Homo sapiens: one gene and its partner. The protein of the gene in region 1 purifies or fractionates together with the protein of each later gene. This does not show direct contact. Each region holds a gene or a part of one and is shown in the gene's direction. Other genes may lie near its edges.

Region 1 (3,196 bases):
TTCTGCACTCAAAGCTTCACTTTTCTGGGGTAGCAGAGTATCACATGGGCCACTTGCTATAAGGGGAAAGTGGAGAGACAGGCTTTACTGAGTTTTCAGACCTCAAAATTGTCTCGGTTGGGTCTTCAGTGGTCTCTGAACCTCTGTAACTGCCATTCAGTCACCTTCTCTGTTGTACTAGGCCAGTGGTTCTCACAGCATGCTCTTAGGACCAGCAGCATCAGCATCACCTGGAGACCTGATAGACCAGGTCCCACTCTAGACCGACTGAATTAGAAACTCTGAGGTTGGAGTCTAGTGAGCTGAGTCTTAACACCCAAGGGGATTTTGATGCAAGCTCAACTTTGAGAACCACTGTACTGGGAACCAGATGTCTAGACTGTGGGACTTTGGTGTGTCTGATGCCCATTTTTGCTTCCCTGATGGGGTTTGTTCCACCAGTGAGAGTTTTTGGATATTAGAGGTTGTCACCTGGATGGGATCTGGGGATGGTGGTGGCTGATTTTGTCTGGTGAATGAATAGCAGTTACAATGGTAATTAGGTCTTCAGTCATGTCTTGGAAAATTCCTTGAAGTAGAATGATGGGCAGAAAATGTACTTGAACCTGTCATTCAGAAAGCATCTTAAGGCTAGCAGGGTAGTCTTCACTTAGTCTCCTGTTCTCTTGATCAGCAACTGAAAAAGACTGTGGATGACCTGCAGGCCAAACTGACCCTGGCAAAAGGCGAGTACAAGATGGCCCTGAAGAACCTGGAGATGATCTCAGATGAGATCCACGAGCGGCGGCGCTCCAGTGCCATGGGGCCTCGGGGATGCGGTGTTGGTGCTGAGGGCAGCAGCACATCTGTGGAGGATCTGCCAGGGAGCAAACCTGAGCCTGATGCCATTTCTGGTAAGTCAGGGGCTCCACTGGGTATGTGGGGAGATATCAGACTGTGTGATTTGTTTCCCAAGGTCCTCACTTTCTCTGGCCATCAGTGAAAGGTCTCAGAGTTGGGCAGGCCTGAGGGCTATTTCTGGTGGGTTCCCATGTTTTATGGAACACTGTGTTCATTAAGAAGGTACTAAGTGTTCCTCAAAGTCAGGATTCTGTGGTCAAATAAATTGGGAAAATGTTACACCTTCACTCCTCTTTGAGAGTCAAAGTATACATTTGAACATTCAAGGCTGAGAAGTCCTGCAGGAAAGAAGAGCTGTAATCAGATTTGATTCAAAGCTACCTTTACATCATTACTAAGGCATGATGTGGGCAAGGGCCTAACTTTGTATTTCAGTTTCTTCACCTGTAAAATGGGGAGTATGACGCTATCTACTGTATACTATCCGTTGTGTAGGGTGGTGGTTCAGCTTACATGAATCAACCCCTGACACCCAAGAAGCACTCAGCAAATGGTGGCTCTTACTGACATCTGACCATAGAGACCTCTTTTCCCAGGGCCTCCCCCTGGAAAACTGATAGAAGTTTGACTTGGTTTCTGTCATGCTCATCAAGAAAACCCACCCAACGCTGTCTTTGCATACTTCCTTTCTTTTCCTTACCTGTGCAATAATCCCTGTCGGCTCTTTCCCAAGCTCCTTCCTCAGGAGTTAATTCCTTCAACAAATATTTAAGTACTAGGTTCAAGGTAAAGGAAAAGGAAACTATCATTTGAACAACTACTATGTATGAGGTACTTTAATATATACATCATCTCAAACCCTGCATGGAGAGGATCATGAAGCTTACAGAGGTAAAGTAACTTGACCAAGGTCACACAGCAAGTAGTGGAGTTAGGGATTCAATTCAGGTCTGAGCCCATTTTCTGTCCCCAACATTACAGTATTTATCATTTATAAGAAACCTTTATGGAATGCTACAAGGCTGTTTTTAAAGAGAAAGGGGGGGAAAAATGGAGTAGGAAAGTTCTAATAAGGAGTGGGATTGTGGGCAGGCTGAGGGAAAACCGCTAAAGGCCAAAGAGGCTTTGAAACCATGGGAATAACATGTGTCTGGGCCTTGTTACTTTGGTCTACCAAATAATGTGGCTACAGAGCATTGTAAAGGATTTCTGTTCTTTTGCAGCAAATGGTGATGTGGGTAGCCTTTGAGTGTGTTCTTTATGAGATCAGAAGTTACCTGGAGATAACAAAGGTCCCAACAGATGTTCCATGCTGGCCTGTTTCTTCTAGCAGCTCTTGCTTCTATTGCCCTAAGAAAGAAGCCTGAGTCCAGCTGGCTTTGTTTGGGATATGTTACAGAGGACTAGAACCTCTTCCTGTGCACATGAGGATGTATTTGGGGGACTGAGGTGGAGTAAAGGTCCTAATTTGTGGCTGAATTAATCTTCCATTTTTAGGTGGTGTCTGGTGACACTGATTTCTTGGCAGGGTTATAAGGTTATTGGAAGGGCGCTTAATATCCATGGGATCCTGCTGCCAGCTGCTTCCCTTCCAGCTGCTTTAGAGGCTGGTCATTCAGGCTTGGGAAGTCACATTCCTTCATTAGGCACTCACAGAGGTAGAGACTCTTTAGTCCCCCATGCTGTGTCTAGCTGCCTGCCAGCAGCAAGCACTTGTGGTGTTTGAGGAGGTGACAGAACCCATGTGACTGGTGTTCTCTCTCAACTTAGTGGCCTCGGAGGCCTTTGAAGATGACAGCTGTAGCAACTTTGTGTCTGAAGATGACTCGGAAACCCAGTCCGTGTCCAGCTTTAGTTCAGGACCAACAAGCCCGTCTGAGATGCCTGACCAGTTCCCTGCGGTTGTGAGGCCTGGCAGCCTGGATCTGCCCAGCCCTGTGTCCCTGTCAGAGTTTGGGATGATGTTCCCAGTGTTGGGCCCTCGAAGTGAATGCAGCGGGGCCTCCTCCCCTGAATGTGAAGTAGAACGAGGTGAGTAGCAGCCTTCTCACCCCGTCCCAGATGCCACACTGCCTCTGTAGCCTGACTGTTGTGCCATTCCATACCTCTGCCAGGTCTCAGGGCCCCCATGCTGCATTACCAGGTCTCTGTGGTTGTGCTGTCAGTATTGATCACTGAGGTTGTTTCCAAGTGCTGTTCTGGGGGGGCTCCTGGCTCCACTCAGCTTCTATAAAGTAGAGCTTAGGTCCTATGTCTCACATCAGAACAGTCTCCTTGGCAAGCACATAGTAGAGAGGTTTGTTTCTCAGCAATAAAGTGAATATGGCAAATTTCATCTCTATAGCTAAGGAATATA
Region 2 (2,929 bases), on another chromosome or scaffold:
TTTTTGTCCATTTTTACCTGAGCTTTGTAAACTCTGATTTGCAGGTAAGGAAATTTAGACTAATGGTTTAACTGAGTGCCTAAGAGCACATAATTAATAAAGGACTCTAAAACTCAGATTTTTAGATTTCTTGTCTAGCATTCATTTCACTGTATAATAGCTGCCATGATTCAAGGTATCCTTTTCCCCTCACTGGATGCAGCTTTTCATTATATAGTTCTTCAGTGTGTTTCTCCAGGGCTGATCTGTTAAGTGCACTGATGGAATTTTTATACATTCCCAAGGTATGTACAAGTAGATGCTTACAAAAAATTTTCATCGGTTGGAGAGTTTTTCCTCTACTTTCATCTTCATATCCCCATTGTCTAGTATGTGGCTTGCATATAATGCACATCATAGGTGGTTAGTGTTTTCATAATTGTTAAATTAAGATATTGCAAGAATTAAAACATGACTTTAATATTATATGTATTTTTTCTTAGGATGGCTGGCTGTGGTGAAATTGATCATTCAATAAACATGCTTCCTACAAACAGGAAAGCGAACGAGTCCTGTTCTAATACTGCACCTTCTTTAACCGTCCCTGAATGTGCCATTTGTCTGCAAACATGTGTTCATCCAGTCAGTCTGCCCTGTAAGCACGTTTTCTGCTATCTATGTGTAAAAGGAGCTTCATGGCTTGGAAAGCGGTGTGCTCTTTGTCGACAAGAAATTCCCGAGGATTTCCTTGACAAGCCAACCTTGTTGTCACCAGAAGAACTCAAGGCAGCAAGTAGAGGAAATGGTGAATATGCATGGTATTATGAAGGAAGAAATGGGTGGTGGCAGTACGATGAGCGCACTAGTAGAGAGCTGGAAGATGCTTTTTCCAAAGGTAAAAAGAACACTGAAATGTTAATTGCTGGCTTTCTGTATGTCGCTGATCTTGAAAACATGGTTCAATATAGGAGAAATGAACATGGACGTCGCAGGAAGATTAAGCGAGATATAATAGATATACCAAAGAAGGGAGTAGCTGGACTTAGGCTAGACTGTGATGCTAATACCGTAAACCTAGCAAGAGAGAGCTCTGCTGACGGAGCGGACAGTGTATCAGCACAGAGTGGAGCTTCTGTTCAGCCCCTAGTGTCTTCTGTAAGGCCCCTAACATCAGTAGATGGTCAGTTAACAAGCCCTGCAACACCATCCCCTGATGCAAGCACTTCTCTGGAAGACTCTTTTGCTCATTTACAACTCAGTGGAGACAACACAGCTGAAAGGAGTCATAGGGGAGAAGGAGAAGAAGATCATGAATCACCATCTTCAGGCAGGGTACCAGCACCAGACACCTCCATTGAAGAAACTGAATCAGATGCCAGTAGTGATAGTGAGGATGTATCTGCAGTTGTTGCACAGCACTCCTTGACCCAACAGAGACTTTTGGTTTCTAATGCAAACCAGACAGTACCCGATCGATCAGATCGATCGGGAACTGATCGATCAGTAGCAGGGGGTGGAACAGTGAGTGTCAGTGTCAGATCTAGAAGGCCTGATGGACAGTGCACAGTAACTGAAGTTTAAATAAAAATGTCTTCAGCTCCATGCTCAAGGTTGAAAGGGTTACCTGTAAATTTCTGCCCACATAACATTATACTCATCCCTAGTAGTGCATTTTGGGAGTTGGGGTGGGAAGGGGTATGGGAAGGATAGACTCATAATTAAAATGTCTAACATGTCTCTGTTGAGAAATTTATTTAATGTAAGGAACTTGGGTGTTAATAGTTGAGAGCTGTTTAGTAATAACCCAGTTTTCTTGAGGTCTGTTTACTTTATACTTTTTAAAAACTTCTGTAGTTCTTTTGGCCAGTGTGTTTGTATTATCTGTGCATTAATGGTCCTCATCTGACTCCTGCATTGTGTCTTATTTTTCTGCATGGATTGGCATAAGACCATTACTAAAATTTGGCACCTGTGAGATGTTTGATATTATGAACAGGAAACATAATTTAATGTATGAATAGATGTGAATTTGGGATTTCAAAATAGATGAATAACAACTATTTTATAGTAAAGTTATTGAAATGGAAATGAAAACAGCCAGTAACTTATGTTTCAGAATGTTTGTAACACACTTCATGGTGTTCCCATAGGCTTTGCTGTCTAGTCTTATAGTTTGAGGTTTTTTTGGTCTGCATTTTTCTTTTTGATTACAAAATTTATAATTTAATAAATACTAGAGTTTATCAAAAACAGTTTGTCTCTTGTTTGAGGGTGGAAAGGGTGTGGAAACATTTTGACATTTGTGACCAAAGGTCACTTAAAAAGTGGTGGTTTTAATTGGTTGTTTTCAGCTTAATCACCTGCTCAGAAAAGTTTGATTTTTTTCTTAGAGATTATTTAAACAGAATCTATAGGCAGTGTGTATATAATAAACATGTATGGAAATAAAACTAAAGCCTGTGAGACTTAAAATTCCTCAAATAGCATATACCGTTAATATTTTATATTTTCCTTACCATATTCATTAGTAGTCTAACACTCTGGATTAAATGGCAGACTTAACGGTGTTAGCAGACATGAATTCACTTTACACAAAATGTTGTAGACCACAAAATCCACTTTTATTTGGTAGTTTTTACATCTATGGCCAAATAGTATTGGGTTGACACAGTAATCTAGAGTTTACCTCTGAAAAAAAGTAATGTGAGTCTGTCTAACCATATTTTCCTAACTCAACAGTAGGATCATGATGGTAAGGCAAATGCAAGTTATTTTTACCATGATTCTCAAATGTGAATTGAATGTTACAGTAGCAAATACTTTTGACCTCTTGTGATGAGTCAGAACTAGAACTTAATTCTTTGACTTTCACATTTTTTAAAAAGTGTATTGCTGGGATCATAAACATTTTATGTTGTGCATTTTTATTACATTTACTTTTGAAAGATAG

Evidence for each region.
Region 2: the proteins of SH3BP5 (region 1) and RNF146 purify together in Homo sapiens (affinity purification with western blotting, with the first as the bait; one study listed by BioGRID). This does not show direct contact.

The regions. Positions count from the first base shown.
Region 1 is NC_000003.12:15,256,528-15,259,723, reverse strand, and holds part of SH3BP5 (SH3 domain-binding protein 5), read left to right. Parts: exon of another isoform or gene 1-673; coding exon 674-893; exon of another isoform or gene 894-1,090; intron 1,091-2,117; exon of another isoform or gene 2,118-2,610; coding exon 2,611-2,871; exon of another isoform or gene 2,872-3,196. UniProt on the Homo sapiens protein: Functions as a guanine nucleotide exchange factor (GEF) with specificity for RAB11A and RAB25. Inhibits the auto- and transphosphorylation activity of BTK. Plays a negative regulatory role in BTK-related cytoplasmic signaling in B-cells.
Region 2 is NC_000006.12:127,286,134-127,289,062, forward strand, and holds the end of RNF146 (E3 ubiquitin-protein ligase RNF146), read left to right. Parts: exon of another isoform or gene 1-44; intron 45-482; coding exon 483-1,560; 3' UTR 1,561-2,429; downstream 2,430-2,929. UniProt on the Homo sapiens protein: E3 ubiquitin-protein ligase that specifically binds poly-ADP-ribosylated (PARsylated) proteins and mediates their ubiquitination and subsequent degradation. May regulate many important biological processes, such as cell survival and DNA damage response.